Regions from separate parts of the Homo sapiens genome. Here region 2 is linked to region 1. The links come from fine-mapping of genetic effects on gene expression. Tissue or cell type: lung. Region 1 holds a variant in brackets; the other region holds the start of a gene. All regions are shown on one strand. Distances are between the middles of the regions. Region 1 holds the start of MIR4329 (microRNA 4329). Region 2 holds the start of AMOT (angiomotin).

Region 1 (10,769 bases):
GCTCTCGCTCTCCTCCACCTCTCTCTTTCCCTCCTTCTCTTTTTCTTTGAGAGACAGGGGTCTTGCTGTGTCACCCAAGATGGAATGCAGTGACACAGTCGTAACTGACTGCAGCCTTGAACTCTTGGCCTTAAGCAATCCCTTTGCCTCAGCCTCCTGAGTTATGTGGTTCTCTCTTAATAATAGCTTTGTTGAGTGTTTTGACCATGCCTGACACTGTTTTTACATGCATAATTTTATCCTCTATGAGATGAAGTTACAAATATTGTTCCCACTTGGCATATGAAGCGGCATGCTTAGAGCAGGTAATTTGACTTTCAGAGGTCATAAAGCTTGTTAGGGGCAGAGTGTACTTGGAGAAGCTGGGACCTGCTGAGTTGTCTGTATTCAGAGCCTGTGCTCTCAAGCACTATGCAAATGCTGCTTCTTCTTGGGTACCCAGTAGGACTACAAGCCAGTGAATTGCACTAGAGAAAGTATAGAATGCTGAGATGGTAAAATATTTTGAGTTTGGCAAATGATGAAAGCCATTGTATTCTTTCCCCTTCTTGTTCTCCAATTATTTCATCATTCCATAAATGGTTTCAACCTTGCATATAAGGTACACGTATATTTTGGGGAACAGTAATTTTATAGAGGCTCACCAAAATCCCCAATCTTAATAGCAACTTTCTGCCTCTTTTTCTTGCCGCTTCATCCCCATCTGCACTAGACATAATCTTGAAGCTAAGAGAACATAGTTAGCTCCCAACAGAAAACATGCCTGGAGTTCTCTTGCAGATCCCCATTCTCTTAGGAAGTATAATGAAGCAGTGCCAGTTCATTGTTTTCTCGGTCTATTGTCTGATTTCCTTGAAGACCAATATAATTGCATCAGTATTCTCCCTAATCCTAATAACCTCCCTCACCCGCCCACCACACACACACACACACACACACACACACATGTTTTTCCTTATTAATTGGTCTTTGAGTTAATGGCCTGAGACACTTTCAAATGGAACATGATGGTCCTTTATGCAGTTAGAACTCTGGCAAGAGAACAGTCACTTTGTTGGGGTAGACCCATTGATTTGGTGCTAGAATGTTTCAGATGTAGATTAGATAGGAATCGAGTGGGACTGACTCAAAGGCACTATTTATTAGCTCACATGCCCTACCTAATCTTAGCTGATGTGTCTGTTGTTTGCTTCTAGTACTCAGGTGTATTTACCAATGTTCATCTGTAGCCATAAGTTACTTAGTATACCCTCTGACTTTCTTGAAAGTCTGACCTTTCCCCCTCTATGACTTCTAGGAGAATAAAATGGAAATATATACATATTCCTTTTTTTTTTTTTTTTGAGACAGAGTCTCCCTCTGTTGCCTAGGCTGGAGTGTAGTGGCTCGATCTCACCTCACAACAACCTTCACCTCCCGGGTTCAAGTGATTCTCCTGCCTCAACCTCCCAGATAGCGGGGATTACAGGCGTGCACCACCATGCCTGGCTAATTTTTGTATTTTTAGTAGAGACAGGGTTTCTCCATGTTGGCCAGGCTGGTCTCAAACTCCTGACCTCAGATGATCCACCTGCCTCAGCCTTCCAAAGCGTTAGGATTACAGGCATGAGCCACCATGCCTGGCCCAATATATACATATTCCTGTTGCTTGGCCATGATCTAAAAACTTGAAGGGGCTATCTGCCAGAAGGTTTTGGGATGATATCTGTTCAGTTCTGAAGGCAAGTCTGTGCATATCTCATCCCTCACTGACTTTTGCAGCCACTTCTATACTAATAACGTTGCCTTCTACCCTGAACGCTGAACTGTCCTATTTTGGAGGCTCTTACGGGTTAGTTCCCCAGAAACCATCTGTTCCAAATGTGCTTGATTTCAGCTTAGGACTTTCCAGAAAAGCCTTCCTTGACTTAGAAGAAAGATAACATTCATTGATCTTGCTATGCTCCCATCTCATCACTTCCATTTTCCTCCCCAGGGACACAACAGTCATCAGTCACTCTCCTAACACCAGCTATGACACAGCTCTAGAAGCTCGCATCCAGAAAGAGGAGGAAGAAATCTTGATGGCCAATAAGCGTTGCCTTGACATGGAGGGCAGGTAAAATGTTGTTCTGGACCCTGAGGAATCTGAGACATTGATATAGAGACCACATAGGATCTTTATTCACAGCTAGGAAATCTGATCATGCAGCCTCCCCGCTCCACCATCACCCCTGCCAGCCTGTCACTTAAAGGTGTGAGATGCAATGACCTTTACCTTGATAATCTCCACTAAACATGGAATTCCAGGTAGGGTTTCTGTCCCTTTGGCCTTCCTAATTGCTTTTCCTCTTCCCTCTGCCTGAGCTGAATTGTTGGCATTTGCACTCTGGAGTATTCTTTCTAGCACTGCACCACAACCCTGTGATACAGCAGATTGCTTAATAAAAGAGTAAAAGAACATCTGCTCGGCCGGGCACAATGGCTCACACCTGTAATCCCAGCACTTTGGAAGGCCAAGGCGGGCGGATCACCTGAGGTCAGGAGTTCAAGACCAGCCTGGCCAATATGGTGAAACCCTGTCTCTACTAAAAATACAAAAATTAGCCAGGTGTGGTGGCGGGCACCTGTAGTCCCAGCTACTCAGGAGGCCGAGGCAGGAGAATTGCTTGAGCTTGGGAGGCAGAGGTTGCAATGAGTCAAGATCATGCCATTGCACTCCAGCCTGAGCGACAGAGCTAGAGTCCGTCTCAACAACAACAACAAAAAGAACATCTACTCAAAGTGGAGGTAGGATACCTGATTCCTTTTATAAACACATGATCATTTACTTACTACCTGCAGGTTGTCGCTCATTCATAGATCTCATCTTCTCACTGAGTAAATTGTTTCCATTGACTGAGATTCTTCACTACAGCACCTAGTACATCAGTTCATTCTCTCATATTCAGCCTTTTTTTTCACTGGTACTTTATTGTGACTTACTAAGATTTAAGCAACAGCTCCTGGATGCTCTGCTGTATCCATTTGGGTGTGCAGAAAAAAGAAAAAACATGTTTTAAAAACTGTAGCACACCATCCCTTGTTTTCCAACTCAGAACTAACTAGATCAGCCTTTAGTCGAAAAGATAATGGGAGCTCCACGTAGTCATGTAGTCAATTAGACCAAAATGTGGAGGTAGCAAGAAGGTTTTTTTTTTTTTTTTTTTTTTTTTGAGATGGAGTCAGTCTTGCTCTGTCACCCAGGCTGGAGTGCAGTGGCACTATCTTGGCTCACTGCAACCTCCGCCTCCCAAGTTAAAGTGATTCTCCTGCCTCGGCCTCCCGAGTAGCTGGGACTATAGGCGCCTGCCACCACACCCAGCTAATTTTTGTGTTTTTAGTAGAGACAGGGTTTCACCATGTTGGCCAGGCTGGTCTCGAACTCCTGACTTTGCAATCCGCCCACCTCGGCCTCCCAAAATGCTGGGATTACAGGCGTAAGCCACCGCGCCCAGCCCACAACAAGGTCTTTATATGTTCTTTGCCTTTGGCTCCTAGGATTAAGACCCTCCATGCCCAGATTATTGAGAAGGATGCCATGATCAAAGTACTCCAGCAGCGTTCCCGGAAGGAGCCGAGCAAGACAGAGCAGCTGTCGTGCATGCGGCCAGCGAAGTCTCTGATGTCCATTTCCAATGCTGGATCAGGCTTGCTCTCCCACTCATCCACCCTGACTGGCTCCCCCATCATGGAAGAAAAGCGAGACGACAAGAGCTGGAAGGGGAGCCTAGGTAATGACAGTAAATAAGGAAGATTATAGTCACGTGTTCAAAGAGAGCCCTGAGATAAGCACCCATGCTTAAGGAAAAGGGATGATGGTCCAGGTTCTAGAGAGGAAGGTGTACCAGGGTTTTGGAGTTTTTTTTTCCTCCTGAGACCCTAGTTCCACATTCTGGAGCTCCTCCACACTTTGAAGTCTCCCGGTGAGAATACCGATTGAGGCCAAGGCTTAGAGGACAAGAATCTTGAGTTTCATTTGGGTGTCAAGGAAGATAACTCTAATTTCCTCTAAACTATTCTCAGATTTGGCCTTTGCCATGTGGCACCTTTATCTTTCTCCAAAGCCCATGTGGCCTTTGTGTCGTTCCAAATGTCAAAATTCCGGCATTTCTGTGTTCCTTCCTCCTCTATAATAGGAGAACCCAGAGTTTTAGTTACACTAAATCGTTTGGGTAGCAGGTTTTGTTCCCACAGTGTTGTGAGATGAGAACAGAATGTACTTTTTCATTCCGTTCCTGTCCATTCCCTCCCCTCTAATCAAAACCCCAGACATATTGTGGATACCACGAGGCACATTTTTAGAGCCCGAGGAAGGAAGCTTATATATATTTTTATTTTAACCCTTTTTGTTGCTGTTAATTCCTTTCTTGGTCCTCTGATACTTGTAATATCTTTTGGTTAGAATAAGCATTTTGGGGACTATGGTCATGGTGAGAACCTCAGATCACACAATTATTACCACACTCAATCTGTGTCAACAGACTTCTTCCCCAGATCCTTTCTTGCTCCCTGGTAACGTGTGGTAATGGTTTATAAGTGGAGCCGAGTAGGAGCATTCTGACAACTTGGTGGAACCCAATCACCATTGGAAAAATAAATCAAAACAGATACCCAGGTCACTTACAGGCTTAATATGTTGTGCCAGGTGATGGATGAGGACCAGAAGGGATCCTCGAAGTCTGTAGGAAACTTTTAGCCATGGTTGGAGGAGCCTCACACACTGATTTCTGGGTTCCCTGGAGGCAAAAATAAATAACTTAGACTATTCTAAATTATTTAATATTTAAAAATAATAATATTTTAAATATTTAAATAATATTTACTTATTTAAAAATAAATAAATTTCTTCTGAAATTTGAATGGGAGAACAGGTAATTAGATGTCTGGATTTGAATCACCTATTGTTTTCTAACATCTGTTCCTCTTTCATTTGTAGGCATTCTCCTGGGTGGAGACTACCGTGCTGAATATGTCCCTTCCACACCCTCGCCTGTGCCACCCTCGACTCCCCTGCTCTCGGCTCACTCCAAGACAGGCAGCCGAGACTGCAGTACCCAAACTGAACGTGGGACGGAATCGAACAAAACTGCAGCTGTTGCTCCCATCTCTGTTCCTGCTCCAGTTGCTGCTGCCGCCACTGCTGCCGCCATCACTGCCACTGCTGCCACCATCACCACCACCATGGTAGCTGCTGCTCCAGTTGCTGTTGCTGCTGCTGCTGCTCCAGCTGCTGCTGCTGCCCCGTCTCCAGCCACTGCCGCTGCTACTGCTGCTGCTGTTTCTCCAGCTGCTGCTGGTCAGATTCCAGCTGCTGCCTCTGTTGCCTCAGCTGCTGCCGTTGCTCCTTCTGCTGCTGCTGCTGCTGCTGTTCAGGTTGCTCCAGCTGCTCCGGCTCCAGTTCCAGCTCCGGCTCTGGTTCCGGTTCCAGCTCCAGCAGCGGCTCAGGCTTCTGCTCCTGCTCAGACTCAGGCACCAACTTCAGCTCCGGCTGTGGCTCCAACTCCAGCTCCAACTCCAACTCCAGCTGTGGCTCAGGCTGAGGTTCCTGCAAGTCCAGCTACCGGTCCTGGACCACATCGTTTGTCTATACCAAGTTTGACCTGCAATCCAGACAAAACAGGTAATTATTCCCTTTAGCAGGTAGGTTTTGGTTTAGTTCTGCTCTCAAATACAGATTTATTTCTTGTTGTCTGATGTCTGGGCAGAGTTATCATTTGGACTGAGTTTTTCACGTTCTAAAGGAGAGAGAAGAGAGTCTGTAAATGACTTCTCATCCACCAAGATGGGAACAGGCATGAGTAGAGGCCATTATCTTAGCAGAAGTAAATGAGGGAGGTGGCAGGCAAGTCTCACTTTGCCATTGGCTTCATGAGGGCTCTGATGGTGTCTGGTTCTAGAAATATGGGTTTTTTCTTCATCCCTAAGTGTTTTCTAACCCTTATTTCCATTTAGATGGGCCTGTGTTCCACTCCAATACTCTGGAAAGAAAAACTCCCATTCAGATCCTGGGACAAGAGCCTGATGCAGAGATGGTGGAATATCTCATCTAAACGGCCAAATCAAGAGCTGCAGATTATCAGCAAAAATGCTTTTAATCATTTTCCCCCTTTTATTGGTTCTTGTTTTGAGGGTGAGGACAAGGGTTGTGGGGAGGGGATGTTTTTTAACAGGACTTTTTATTGGAACAATGTACTA[C/G]TTGAGTAATACCATGTGAACACCAGTCTATTTTGGTATGCTTAGGGAGTACCTCTAAAGACAGATTAATCAGAATGTGCTCTAAAGCTTATTGTTTGAATTTATACGAATACTGGGACTGTTAACAGGTGGCTATACATCGACGTTTTCAATGTGCTTAAATTTGTTTAAATTTTCCATATTCTAGATCATTTTTTATTGAAGAGCACAGTATGTGTGGAAGACAGTGTATAACACGTAGTTTGGAAGTGGGAAGCTAGAGAGAATTGAGTGTGTGCTGTTTTGTATAGTTACTATCCTGTGCAGCAGCTGGAGAAAGCACTCACCTCAGGCTTACAAAAGGGAATAGTTTCAGGAGCTATGTAAGCTGGAAAAAAGGTAGGGAGTTTTGGGGTGCAGAAGGGTACTGGAGCTAATTTTTTCTTCCAGTTTCCCAGCTACCCTGCCCCAGGGAATTGTGTTTGTCTTCATTTCAGTGGTGCTTTGGAAATGGATTCTTTTGGTTCCCTCCTGGAGGTTCATACATTCATATATATGCTCTGGAGTAATTTATGCATTTGGATAATTAATATATTGCTTTCAGATGCTGGGAGAGTACATTAACTGAGTGATGCGCAACTTCCTCTCTCTTAGGGAATTAGACCATCAGAGGCCTTGATGGAGAGTTGCATGGGGTGCTATATGCAGACTTCCATGGTTTGTGTGTAGCCATGAACACAGCTTGCTTGCATTTAGTAAGACCAATCAGCTTAGTGTTTATTTCTTCTACAGCACAGATTCACTGGCTGGGTCTCCAGTCTCAAATTGCCAATCATTTGCAAAGTGAGGAAGGATCTTTGTTGACAGGTTGAATGCTTTGAATTTCTGGTGACTACTTTGAAATAACTTGTTTTGTTTGTCAAATTCTAAGCATATGTCTTAAAAGGCATTTTTGACTATCACCTCCAAGGGAATAGCTTGAGAAACCCAAAGTACTATGCTGCAGTCGGGGGAGAGGTGGATTGCAGCAGTATCCTCAACTACCTCTTCTCACTGTCAGTGACACCATCTTGGAATACCTTTGGGAAGCAGCAGGAAATGTGCATGTGGGTAGAGATCAAAGGAGGCAATGGCTCCAAGCCTTGCCATAGGGCTGCCTCCAAGGACACAGAAGGATGCCAGTTGCCACAGGTCCCTGCCCTGTGTCACCTGTCTGCCCTTCATTAAGGTGAGAAATCTGCAGATAGCATCATTAAGATCAGTTTTAAGGGGTATAGGGAGGGTGAGGGAAGTGGGGGGTGTTAGGTAAGGGTTGGGGGTAGAGGTTTTGGGATGTCTTAGTTAGAAACCAGATTAATAGAAGAGTAGGCCTGATATATTACATCATGAGCCATAGTGGTGGGAAAGAACTTTAGCAATATAGCCCTACCTCCTCATTTTAGTGATGAGGAATCTGAGAACTGGAGAGGTTCAGTGACTTTTTGAAAGTCATACAACACAGCTAACCATTATGCCAATCACCATGCTTATTTTGGGAAACTCTTTATCTTTTTTAAATTCCATTTTATGAAAAGGCATCTTCATGGTCCAGGGAATATGTATCTTGTAAAATGTACCTGGTTGGAGTAGCTTGTCCAGTCTTGACAAACTACTGAATTTCTGTCTTGCCTCTCCTTCAGTGCCTTTTAAAAGGTTTTCCCTTTTCTGATCTGCATTTCAACATAGAGTCACATAAATGTCCCCCTGAGAAACCAATCCCACTTCTTTCTAGGAGATTGGGTATCTTAGATAATCTTTTGGGGTTCCTCTGTGAGTATAGGAATGGTATCCTTCCTAATTATCTTCCAAAGGAATTATTTTGTGTGTGTGCCTGTGTGTGTGTAGAGACATAAAGGAGGGTGATGTGATTTTCAGCTAGTCCTTTCACATTTTCAATAATGAGGTAATCATGTTACATACACATTAGTCCTCAGTTATAAAGTGAATCTCAGATAGAAATTAAAAGTGCAGTTGTGTTAAGACTCTTTCATACTACCCTTTAGTCATAAGGAGAAAAAAACACTCAAATAGTAGAAGCAGCAAGTAGCAAACTTCAGGAGAGCTACTTTCTATCCAAATAATTTAAAAAACACTTTTCACCTACTCCTTTCATGGTTATAACACATTGGCAGACTTTTTGCTGGCTCTGGGAGCCATGATTTTAATCACATTCTGCAAGGTGACAAATGTCATACATTCCACATTGTGTGGTAGCCATCTCTTTAGACTCATGTGTTTTGGGGAAAGGAAGAAGTTCTTGGCTGAGTACTATTTTGAACTTTCCAGAACCCTCTCACACCAGAGACAGTTCTTCTCTGTTCAGTTTCCAATCCCCGATAATTTGCTAAAATAACATTGTACATCCAAGAGAGGGAAGAAGAGTATGTCAGTATATTATGCAGAAGATAGATACAGCCTTTTCAGAAGATCTCCACTAGTTTTTGTTCCAAAAATTCAAGTTTATGGGAGAAATCTCAATTAGCCACCTTTTCACAGTTGTGTGGATATAACATTTGGGGGATCTTTCTGGACTCCTACCTATCTGTGCATTTTACCGGCACCTCAGGAAAGGAGGGTGACCAGGTTGTCTTAGCTTGTACTGCTTGGTGATCTCTGAGGACCTTCTAATTCAGTTGTACCCCAGTGTTCCATGTATAGAAAAACTTCATTAGAACAAACTTTACTTGATATGAAACTCCTATTAACAGTCTTTTTTTGAAATAAAAAGTAGCTTGAGCTTTCTTTTAAAATCATGTATCTTGATTGTTGATTTAATGAAGGATTTCCTTTTAATGCTGCTTTTGAGCTTCAAGGTAATAGGACAGCAGGAACCTAAAATATCTGCCATCATCTGCCATAGGAAAGATACCCAGAGACCCATCATGTTCTCTTTTTGTTGTTACACTGTTGGGTGGGTATAACAATTGGAAAATGAACAAACTGATTGATTGTGCAAACTACTTTTTATGACAAGCCTAAACCCTCATAATGCGGCAGCTTAAAGTGTATACATATGCACTAACTTTGATCAATTATATTCTCATATCTGTTAGCTACACAGTCTCCTATTATCTCAATTGCTTATGTGCATATGGAATATGTTACTTAAAACGTGTGCATTCTTACTGAAAATGTTTTCAAAGGAAGGTATCAGCTGTGGGCTAATTGCCACCAATTTCAGCCTGCCACGATTCTTGGAAATATGTCTTCCAAGTGCCATCCATCATCAGTAGGACAAGTGTCGGGAGTTTGTTTATTTTTTTCCAGTAGCAACGATGGGTTACATGGAGCCATGAAACCTCCTTCTGGCCTCCCTTGTGATTAATGGCATGTGTTTGTAAAATGGATAGCTGGGGTTGGCAGATGGCTAGAGAAGAATCGCCTTTGGTTTAAAATGTATGTGGTCCCCTAATGATTGTGACCCCATTCTGTAATCAACTGAGCTAGTTCCAATAAAGTTAAGCAGGTTTAAATCCACTTTGTGCCTATCTTTTCACTGACAATAAAGTTAGCTATTTTAAAATGCAGTACCGTGTGGAAAATGCTTTGGTGTTTACCCGACAGAGGCTTTATTTGTGCTGTATCAGTGATTACTTTCAATTCAGTATGCAGTGAAATTGCCTTTCAAGGGCAGCGTGCAGCAGAATTTGCATTTGCTTGAAGTATGGAATGTGATTATAGATTATAAAGTATTAAGACAACACCACAGGCCGCATGCTCTAATCGGTCTCTTTATATACTCAGGCAGCATATATTAAAAGCTTTGCATCTTTTTATCTTCTGGTTTCTAGGGATAAAATGATGGCCACCCAAAGCAGAGAATTTATCCTTTGGTTAGCATTTTGGAAGGCCCCTTGATATTCCTTTTGTACCCTTGTTCTGATGCCAATTCATCAGTTTTGGTTGAGGGAGCTTGTTATTAAAAACAAATCAAAACCACAAACGAGTTGGCTCTTCACTGAAAATGTTAAGGCTGCCTTTACACTGCCCTTTCTGTGCCTCCTGTTTACCAATGAGTTCCAAACCTGACTGGTGAGGCAAGGATCCCCAAGGACTTTGAAATGACACGTTTTCACAGTGAAATAGACTTGATGGGTGTTGCGAAAGGGATAGGGCAGGGGTCTAGAATTCATTCAACTGTAAATTTGATTTTTCTTAAAGTTGGACTTGATTCCCTCCATATTTATGATAAGTGCTTTGAAAACCGTATGGATGAAAGGCCTCCCTCTTTTTCAGGACAAAGAAGATAAGGTATTAAGTTAACCAGACCTTCTTACAAAGCTTTGCAAAGCATTCTTTTCAGAAATGTATTGCGCCCATTTCTTAAGGAGCAGTCACTTGTTGAAAGAAAAAGCAAATGTTCCTTCAAAAATGTGTTAGATTGGCCGGGCATGGTGGCTCACGCCTGTAATCCCAGCACTTTGGGAGGCTGAGGAGGGTGGATCACGAGTTCAGGAGTTCAAGACCAGCCTGGCCAAGATGGTGAAACCCCATCTCTACTAAACTACAAAAATTAGCCAGGCGCGGTAGCAGGT
Region 2 (10,769 bases), 62 kb before region 1:
TCCGGCTAACCTAGGAATTTGCAAATAAACCCTACTGAGAAGTATGGACAGTCTGGGCCTTTCCAGAAACTCAAGCTGCTGAAGGAGATATGGTATTTAGTTAAGCTGAAGTGAAGCCCTGCATAAATCATAAAGAGGCGAGCCCAGGTTACTCAAACAAGACCTTAGGAGGTGTTTGGGGAATAGACTTGTAGGCAGCTTTATTTTTCTACAGCCGATTTACTTCCAAAATGCTGGGGCCCACAAATACCCCAGGAGCAACTTGGCTCCCAAATGCTGGAGCAGGTCTTGGCCTTGGAGCACAGTTCTGGTGTTGTTTCCTGAATTCCCACATTGCTGTTTTCCACACATGGATCGGGCTTCAAACTTCCTGTGTCTGGACTGTGTGTGCATGCTGTGTGTGTGTGTGTGTGTGTGGTTGGGAAGGGTGGAAGGGGGGAGGGAGGGAATCCAGAAGGAAGAGCATTTAACTGAAGTCGTGTATTGCATATGTGTCCCTTTGTTCCTTTCCTGTTCAGATAAACCTGCTATTTTCTGATCAGCTGGCTTCTGCATGTACAGGGCTAGTGTGTCCTTATGAATAAATAGGAGGCTGACTTTTGGAGGTGTCCTGGAGAAGGCTGTTTCTCAACGTTTGTCTTTGGAGGAATTAAGGGGGACAGTTATGTATAGAGACATAAATCTTTAAGATTTATTTTTTCTCGTATACGTGCTTGCCTCTGCTTTTGTTCATAAATGCATTTAAATCATTTAGTTGTTCACTAGGCAACTAGAGGAAGATGTGCACATTCCATATTCCTGGTTCACTTGGTAAGTGGGGGAGAATGCCATTCAATGCAAAGCACTATGGTTTTATCATCTTTCCTTCAAGAAGAATCTGGCCAGGGATTGGGAATAGACCATAAGCTATACACTCCTTCCTACTTTTCCTGTACGTTGGACAAAAATATTGCACACAAAGGGAAGATTTTTTAATTAAGACATTTATTAGTTGGCAACATGAAACACTGGAGATTTTATATTAAAAACATTTGACTTCTGGTTTCTCTTGAAAAATCAGAAGCTGTGGTCACATTGGCCTGCATTTCCCTGTAGTGGTGATCAGGCTGCCCCTTTCACATGGGTTCTGCCTTCTTGCAACCCCTATCACTGGCATTGTCTCCTGACACTAAGCCTAAGGGTTATTAGCTTTTGTGTGTGTGCATGTGTGTTTGTGTGTGTGTGTGTGTGTGTGGTAAGAGATACGTAACAAAATTTACCATTTTAACAATTTTTAAGTGTACAATTCAGTGGCTTTAAGTACATTCAAAATATTATACAACTATCACCATTATCTAGTTCCAAACCTTTTCATCATCCCAAACAGAAATTGTACTATTAAACACTAACTTCCCACTCCCTCTTCCTCCAGCCCCTGATCACCACTACTCTACTTTCTATCTCTATGAATTTATCCATTCTAGATCCCTCATGTAAGTGGAATCATACAATATTTGTCCTTTTGTATCTGGCTTATTTCATTTTGTGTAATGTTTTCAAGGTAGACATTTGATTTTTTTAATGGATTTTATTTTGTACAGCACAGATATTGATTTTTATTGTGCAATAAAGGTGTATTTTAAGAAAAAAAAATAAAGGCCAAATAGGACAGGTAGTTTGGGATGTGGAATCTTGACTTCTGAGCTTAAAATGATCCTCCTTTTTTCCATATCGTTATATGGAGGTTTTTAATGTGTAGTATCTAGGCAACCCAGTGTCTTTACACAGGTGTTTTACAGCTAGTGGTTAATTCTCCTGGTCTCCCCCAGAGGGCTTTCTATACTTTATAGTCAGGATATGAAGACACAGGGATGCTGTGGGGATTAGTTAAATGTGTGTGGCACAGTGTGCTGTATAAACTAACTCTCTGGAACTAGTTTTCACTCTCTGCTCTTAACTTCCACAGCTTTTACTGTCAATACCATTCATTTGGCACTTAGCACATGCTTGTTAGTTGTCTTTTTATGTTTATATCCTTGAAGGCAGGAGCTAAGTCTCATGCCTCTTTGTTTTTTCAGTCTTGTCTATAATAGCGGCTCAATCGATGTTTGTTGATGTTGGCCTCCCCCTCCCCCTCTCTTTTAAGTAGTGCAGGCAATGCACAGCTTTAAATCCAAACTCGGTTTAAACAAACTGAAAGGTTTTCAGGGTGAAAACAAAGAAGTCTTGCATGGCAGGATAGAAGGCTTGGAAGACCTGGGTTAAACAGAAGTACCAAAAAGCTGTTTGCCACAGGTTAAGAAATGACTCACACACAGCCTGACTCACCATTAAGTTCAGAGTTCTGCTAACTCTACTCCATCAAAATTTGGAGAAGAGTAATGCCCAAGCAGGGTTTGAGGAGCGGATGTTAAACGAATTAAGTGTTTTAGAGGTTTCCATTGCTCCAATTCCATTGCTCCACAGTATAAGTCGCTGTGGGGAAAGGAAAGCATGTTAGAAAAGTGTTTTGAAGGCAACTTCAAGGCTAGGGGCAGGCATACTACAAATGAGCCACCAGGCCTTTGTTACCAGGATTTTTTTAAATAGCATCTTCCGTAGTAGCAAAAGATGGGAAATAGCCCAAATTTGCTTCCATTTTTTTTAGAGATAGAGTCTTGCTATGTTGACCAGGCTGACCTTGAACTCCTGGCCTCAAGGGATTCTCCTCCCTCAACCTCCCTAGTAGTTGGAACTATAGGCGTGTGCCACCACCGTGTCTGTCTCCCAAATCCCCATTTAATAAGGGGATGAGTAAAGGAATTTTGGCACAGCTATGCAATAGAATATTGAGTTATAATAAAATAAATAAGGTAAACATAGTTATCCTGAGATGGAAGAATATTTCAAATACATTGTTGAGTAAACAAATGCAAGGTGTGCCTTGATTAATGATCCCACTTGTAAGGAACAAAAAGGGAATATGCACTCATGCTTGAATATGCAAATAATCTATTTGGAAGATGACATACAGTCATAAAGAGAATGGGACTATGGGAGCAGAGTGGTGGAGAAGAACTTTTCACTGTAGTCTTTCAGTACCTTTTTGTTTGGTGTTTTTTGGTTTTTTTTTGACGGAGTCTCGCTCTGTCACCCAGGCTGGAGCGCAGTGGCCGATCTCAGCTCACTGCAACCTCCGCCTCCCAGGTTCAAGTAATTATCCTGTCTCAGCCTCCCGAGTAGCTGGAGCTCAGTGGCTGATCTCAGCTCACTGCAACCTCCGCCTCCCAGGTTCAAGTAATTATCCTGTCTCAGCCTCCCGAGTACCTGCTACTACAGGCGCATGCCACCACGTGCAGCTAATTTTTGTATTTTTAGTAGAGAAGGGGTTTCACCATATTGATCAGGCTGGTCTTGAACACCTGATCTCAAGTGATCCACCCGCCTCAGCCTCCCAAAGTGCTGGGATTACAGGTGTGAGCCACCGTGCCCAGCCCAGTACCGTTTTATCTGAATTCTTCCATGTGCATGTTTAACTTTTTTCACTTGGACAGCATTGATTTTAACAAATATCCTTTTGCCTCTGTGATTGGTAGTAGTCCTGCAGCATATACCCGCCCCCCCACATCTAGCTCTCCTGTCCACTCCAAATAACAAGGCTGAAATAACCTTTCCTTGCTTCACAAACCAGGTGTCTCCATATTTTGAACATTCAAAAACTCACTTTCTCCATGAAAAATCACCCAAATAACCTCACTTCATACATAAACAGAATCATAACGAGAATCATTTTGTGCACACTCCTGCTTCTGAATCTTTCCACAGCTCCTAGCAGAGCATGCTGCACACTCCATGACATGCAATAGTCCACTACTTTTCCTGCAGAGTTGGATTCTGAGCCCCTGTTTACTGTGTGATAGTGTTTCCTTTAAGCACACTTCCTCTTGCATGCCTTGATCCATGGCCCCCCAGATGGCTCCCATTAGGCAGGCTTGAATTGGATGTCACTCTTTCATTGGCATGAGCCATTATAATGGCCTTGCGCTGTCAAGGCGTTTACATTTAGGCTTGCTTCCTACTTGAAATGTTTTCTAGGAAATATGGATCTGTAGAGAATGGTGGTTTCCATGGTAAATGTTCCTTCATATTTGTTTTCTTAAGTTCACTTCGGAGATACACAGCATGATTTCCTCTTTCAGTACCAGAACCACAATAGCTTTAAGTTGTCATGAAATTGTAGAACTTTAAAAAAGAAATCTCACCCACCCTGCTTAGAAAAGGGGTAATTTATTATTCTAACTGCAGGGAGTCAACTTCATATCCACCCCCAAAATTGTAGGAAAAGAGTTGACTTTTTAAAATAAAGCCACAAAACCTACACGACCTTGGATGTAAATGCTTAAAACAGATGAGCAAAATATTGATCCTCTAACACATCTAAGACTCTCCATTATGTTTCACACACAAGTAGGAACACATACATGTGTGGAGTGCTTTATAGTTTTCACACACATTTTATTTTCATACCAGTGCCTTTAAGTTAATAGGGCATGTCTTACAGCATTTACTTACAGGTAGAAAAATTAAGGCTGAGAAGTTAAGCCACTTAACAGAAGTCATACAATTAGCTAGTAAGTGCCAGGGCCCCAAATGAATTCTTCCTTTGGTTCCAAATTCCATGTTATTTTGCTACCCTGACACTGTTTCTTTGTGCCTTCGTTTTTCTAGATGTAAAATGGTAGATTTTCCGTGTCCCAGGATGCTGTTCTCAACCCTCTCGTTTTTAACCAATGTCAGCTTTTTTCACAGTCAGCAGAACACCACAATGACACTTCATGTACTTTCCCCCCTCCTGATTTAATAAACTAAGGGGGAAGAAAAGTTACCTATTCGCAGAAAGCTGGACAGTGCCATAAACATAAAGGCGTACCAGAGTCGGCCGACACACTGTTGCACTCTTTTATGAGACTGAGAAATAAAGCGTCTCATCTTTCTCTTGCCAGCAGTAGCTGGGGTAGAACATAGAACTACACAATAGCCTCTTGTTTAGTTTTATTAATTTTGAGGGCGGGTGGGACAAAGGGATCAGACTGGCGACTCCAGGGCCCAATCGCAAGCGTATACTAGGCCAGGCTGGGCCAACCGGTAGCTGCAAAAGAATGGTGGGCGGGACTTACGCTTCAGGGACGCGCTCCGCCCAGGCCGGCGCTCCCAGCCCGCCCAGGGGCGGAGCCTCCGCGGAGCGCCGCCCGCGACCCCTCCTCCCTCGCCCCTCAGCTTCTGCGGCCCGCCAACGGGAGGGGGGCAAGCGCCCGGGGCGGGGGAGCGGAGGAAGAAAGGAGGGTGTCTCGCAGAGCTGTGACCTGGGTGGGGGCCTGCTGGTAATAGGAAGCAAGAGGGGAAGGAAAACGAAGGAGCGCTTCTCCTTCCTGCATTATTTTAAGCAGGCTTTGGTGGAAGCTGCTTTTCAGCATTTCTATTATTTGTTTTTCTTCCTCCCGCAGTGGGGCGGGGAGCTGCACTGGCTCTCCCACGCGTCTATGCCGCGCTGTTGCCGCAGATTATTATTGTAGTCTTTTGCAAAACCCTTTCCTTCTTCCCAGCCAGTCCCCGCGCAGACTCTCACGGCTACGGCAACCGAGTCGTGCCCCTCTAGTGGGAAGGCGAGAGCGAGGGTCCCTTGCTTTCGCCCGAGCTCCCGGACCCCGCGGTTCAATTGTTTGAAACTTCCACGCCCCCCGGCCCCGCCTCTCTTCCGCGCTCCCCTCACTCCTCACTTCCAGGGTCCAGGCAGGCTCCCGCCCTTCTTTCCCCGCCCTCTACTCCGCCTTCCTCCCTCGTCCACCCCTCCCGCCGCCCTGCTCCGGGGCGGTCCTAGCCGCTCACCGCAAGAAGAAAAGCCACCCGTTCGTCCCCCTCCCCTACCTCCCATCCTTTGCCCAGGAGCTGCCTTGGCAGTCACGCCCCTTCCTTCCGAGGAGCTTTCTGGCTGCCTAAACTGGTAGACCCCCTGAATTACTCCTCCATCTCCGCTCTCTTTCGCCTCCTCTTCTCTTAGTTCTCTCCGCCTCCCCCTCAACTACCACCACCTCCAGTCAGTCTCGCCTCCGGCTATCCGCTGCTCCACCCTCTGGCCCGGTATCCTGCCTGTCCGCTGCCACCAAGGAGAGCCCGGACGGAGCAGCGAGGAGGGGAGCAGCCGGGAGTTGGGGCTTCCCCCCTGCCCATCCCTGGCCGCTGGCCCGGGACCGAAGCCACTTGAGCGAGCAGAGAGTCGTCACCTTGTCTTCTTTGCCTTCAGGGGTAGGAGACGCGTGGTTACTTTTCGCGGGGAACTGGGGCAGGAATCCATGGTGGCATGAACTTGGTCGTGCCCTCGGCGTGAGTGAATCGATCTAGGCGCGTGTGGGAATGCCCGTGTGTTCTACTTTCTTTGCAGCTCGCCATGAGTTTTTTTGGATGTGCAGCAAGTTAAATCGGTTAGAGTGTGCGCTGCTTTCCCGTCCTACTTCGGTGAGGAGATGCTAGTGGGTACCACTACTAGATGGTACTTTTACTTCTTTACCTCCTGGGGTTCTTGTGGGTCTCTAGGTAATTAATCACATTGAGGAGCTAAAGACCCGAGGGAAGCTGAAATCTACATTTAGCCCAGCATGCATGTCAGTGCTTATCTCAGATAACTAGATAGGTTTCTGCTAAGTGCTTAGGCTTGGGGTGGGGACTCACACTCCCTGAGGCGGGAGCAGGAGGGGTAGGACCGTGAATTCTTGAAGTTTTAAAGTCTGTGTAATCTAAAACAAGGCTACTCTTTGAGATGTGTGGTGGTGGTGGTAGTGCTTGTGGTGGTAGTGATAGTGGTGGTGAGGAGGGAGTTGCCCCTATCTGCTTTAGAAGATCCAAAGATGTTAGTAAATAGTTTTGGGGGATCTTGAGGGTGTCTTGAGGGTCCAAGCCTGGGCCACTGCACATTGGTGCTTCAACAGTAAGATGGGCTTCATGGGTTTGTGAAAATGAAGAGAAAGAAAAGGGGGAGGGAAAATAACAGTCTTTAATAGACTGTGAGCAGTTCCTGGTAGATTGCCACTAATAATAATATAATAATTTGCATAAAGGGACTAAGTAGAATTAAATGAGCAAGGAAAGAGAAAGTTGGTGAGAAACAGCATTTTCAATCTCTAGTGTATGTTTTAGAACGAACTTTTCAACAACCTGGGATGTTTAGTGCATGAAGTTCTCCTCCCTCCCCGCCATGAAGAGTGGACGTTGGGAGGCAGTTTAAAACTTTTATGAATATAACCCTCTTCTCCCATTCAGAGAAGAAGATAATTAGTCACCATAATCTTCAATGATGAAGGGCTAAGGATATTTAAGTCTCCTTGAGCTAGGCTTTGTGAAAAGTTCTTTCTCAGGCCAGCCTTTGTGAAGCCTTCTCAGTTAGACCTTTCAGCACCCTCATTTAGTAGCTAAGAATAGTTTGAAATGCCATTTTGGATGTGGTATACATTTTCATCCATCTCCCACCTATCTTCAATTGGACAAGTGCGTCAAGCCTGTAAGTGATGGTGTTCAAAGACTTATTACTGAGATGTCCTTAACCCATTGCTTATTTGGGAACACATTATTAACATACATTTTAAAATAACTTTGGTTGATTTTAATGAGTGAAAGGAAAGTAGGAAGGTAGAGAAGGGCGACAATTTTAAAGGCTATCCTGTTTCAGATCAGCTGGGAGGGAAAAGCTGGCCTGACCAAACTACATTTTATAACTGGCCTGGGACATTTTAACAGCCAGGTGGTTGTAGAGTAGTTGCCTCTATTTACAGATGATAACTAAGGTTCCAACTATTCTGTATGGGTTTATCCGGCGTCATTGACAGACACTTTCTGGCACTACATCATACTTCATTTTAAATTACTTCTTTCCTTGGAAAAGTTCGTGGCTTTGTAAAATTGTAAGTGCTTTTTCTACCTTCACAGTCTAGATGTGAAGTAAACCTCTGACCACAATTGTATGTGGAGTCACTTTTACATGAAATTTGTGGATCTGTTTACCTATTTAAAAGATTTTAGAAAGGGAATTTTAATAATTCATAGTCAATGCAGTTTTGGATTTGGAAATTAAAATTTCATTTCTGGTTTATGAAGTTTGATTTATTAGACTAATTCCCAACAAGGACATTTGTAGAGTTGCTTTTTCTTTCTGAGGTTTTGTAAAGACTGCATCAGACTCTAGAATGCTTTAAGAATAGCCTAATCAGAAGGCAGGGGGATGGATACTATGACCTTGAGGTCCCATTGAGTGCCAGAATTCTAAGTGGGTACATCTGCTTCTGTGCCTCTCCCAAGAGCCCTCTCCCAGGGCCTGCGCCTTCTTTAAAAGGGTGTCTTTGTAATTAAGCGGCCCTTCTTCCCCATCCCCCTTTCTTCCTTTGATCCAGCTTTTTAAGGCCTTTTTTTCCATTTGGAGACAAGAGGGGTTTCTCACACTTTCCTGTTCCCCTCTTAACGCTTCTTTTCCTTTACCCCAGAAAAGTCCCCTGAAGTTCTCAGGATGGTTAGAAGTTGTTTTGTTTTGTTTGGGGCGTGGGGGTGGAGTGGGGGAGTTGTTACCAATGAGGAGGAATAGAGGATATATTCCCTCTTGGGAAATGCTTGTGACCAGGTAGCCTCCTCCATGGAGACTGAGCATTTGGAATGCATGAGAACAGTCTATTCTTGGGGACTGTCTGGTAGAAATTGTCCTTTGCACCCATTAAGCCCAGCTTAAACACTGAAAGGGGTGGGGAGAGGTGTGTGTGGTCGTACTGGAGCCTTTTAGGATGGTAAATGGGTAAATGTTTCCAAATCTCCTATTACATCATCTCTTTCTCCCATGGATTCAGTAGGTTTAGTGATCTGCTTGACAAGTTAATTAGCTGGGGACTAAACCAATTTGTTTAGAATTGTGATCCATTGATTTCCTGTCCCCAGGAATTTTTGTTGGTGTTTTACTATGATGTGTTGTCTTTAGTCTTACTTACTTTTCCCTCCTTGCTGCCTTTTGTGGACTTTGGTCCAAATTCTAGGGTTCCACCCCCAAGTCAAAGGTTAGAATTTTGTCCCAGGAACTAAGGGGGTATTAAACAGGCTGGCCATACTGCATTACTCTCCTCCATGGTGGGCTTCTGACCCCTTTTAACCCAGAGAAAGGAGGGAAGTCGCCCCTTCCACACACAACACACACAATCTGAACAAAAAAAAAGAAAAAGAAAAAGAAAGAAAGAAAATAGGAGGTCATTTGCTTTATAAAAGAATCCACAACAGGTTTTCTTTGTAAGTACTAGCTTTCCTAGTTAGTGCCTTTAAACTATGACTTGATATATAAAAATTCACTCTAACTGGGCCTTCTCGGAAGCATATTTATTGCATAAAGGAATACATAAGAATTTGTAATGATTATCGCTTAAATTAAGTGAGGCCATTATTTGGCCTTTGAAATCTTTTTGTTATATGGAATGGAGTTAGTTAATTGTCTAAATCATTCTGGCTTGTAATAATGCTGGCCACGTTAGCTCTGGCCTACAACTGCTTGCAGAAGAAAGCTAGTATTACTTTTTGAAAATAAATCAGACTTTATAGATTTTGAACAATTCTAAGGATGAGACTATCCACCCCATATAGGTAAAATGTTTTATTTCCAGCTACTGTATTTGACTAACCCAGGGATCCAGAAAGTTATTTCTAGTAAATAATGGCGACTGATGCCACTTTAACCTAAGAATCTGCAATAAGATTTCCTAGTGAGCCTATTGGTGAGAAGGACCTGGGCTCTAGGCCCAACTGTAACTCGGTTTACTACCTCTGTTAAGTTTTTTTTTTTCCACTGTAAATTATGGGTTTGGACAGGGTAATTTTGAGAGCCAGTTCTTATACGTTTATGGTTTTCTTTCTAGGCCTCAATATCTAGTATGAATGTGAATGATTGCTACTAGAATGAAGTGCAACAGTTGTTAGAAATTCAATCATCTAGTCATCATGTTAAAGAAAAAAAGATCCTGTAAGGATATATGAATATAGATGCATTATGTTTTACATTTTAACAACCCAAAATTAAGAAGCTAAGACTCTGTCCAAAACTTCAAGAATTCCATCATCCTAAGAGATCACCTGCTTTCATTTTTTCTAGTTCCTTTCAAGTCCTGGTTCCTGTACTAACATGAGTTTTAGATAATTGGAGCCACAGATATATACAATGTTGCTTTTCAATAAGAGCCCACCCAAGACTTAACTTTGTGAACCCATGTGGAGGAACTAAGTCAGAATCTGACCGAGGACACATGAAGACTCCCATATATTTTGTTTCTCAAATGCCAGGAGAGGCTAATGGATATAATAAGTAATCCCTAAACACTCTCTGTGATTCAGGAGTTGTTCATGTATCTAGCAAGGCTGTTAATTTAATTCCTTTGACCTCCTGTTATCCCTCCCCCATTCTTGTTAACAACAACAACAACAAAACTAGGGTCCACTGTTTACTTTGTGTAAATCATTGGCAATGATTTTTAAGTCACTGTATGGTGAAATCCCATCAAGTGAGTATAAATTTGAGTGGAATATGAAATCTCCAGAATGAGAAAGGAGAAGCAGGAAAGCACAAATATACTTGTTTTGTAGCATGGAAAATAATATGTTTAAATTAGACTAAAAGATAGCAAAGAAACTAAGGATTTTAGACAGTTAAATAAAAGACAAGAAGTGCAGCAGCAGAATGGCCCACACATAATGGGTTCTTCATCTGAGGTCTTCACCATGTAGTCAAATTTCATAGTTCT

What was found. PIP is the estimated chance that this variant, and not a neighbour inherited with it, causes the effect.
Region 2: it holds the start of AMOT, and the variant in region 1 is fine-mapped to the expression of AMOT in lung (TOPMed, PIP 0.91).

Annotation. Positions count from the first base shown.
Region 1 is chrX:112,773,869-112,784,637 of GRCh38, reverse strand. AMOT (angiomotin) reads left to right here. Exons shown (of 14, transcript NM_001113490.2): 11 at 1,976-2,098; 12 at 3,520-3,752; 13 at 4,958-5,641; 14 at 5,974-9,761. The coding sequence ends at 6,071. It overlaps MIR4329 (microRNA 4329), which reads left to right and starts at 3,850; the gene lies at 3,850-3,920. RefSeq lists an enhancer at 4,745-5,245. The variant C/G (reference allele first, on the strand shown) is at 6,217.
Region 2 is chrX:112,835,944-112,846,712 of GRCh38, reverse strand. AMOT (angiomotin) reads left to right here and starts at 5,882. Exons shown (of 14, transcript NM_001113490.2): 1 at 5,882-6,261. LOC107985651 (a long non-coding RNA gene) reads right to left here and starts at 4,987. Exons shown (of 3, transcript XR_001755993.2): 1 at 4,845-4,987; 2 at 2,308-2,454. RefSeq lists a silencer at 5,037-5,376.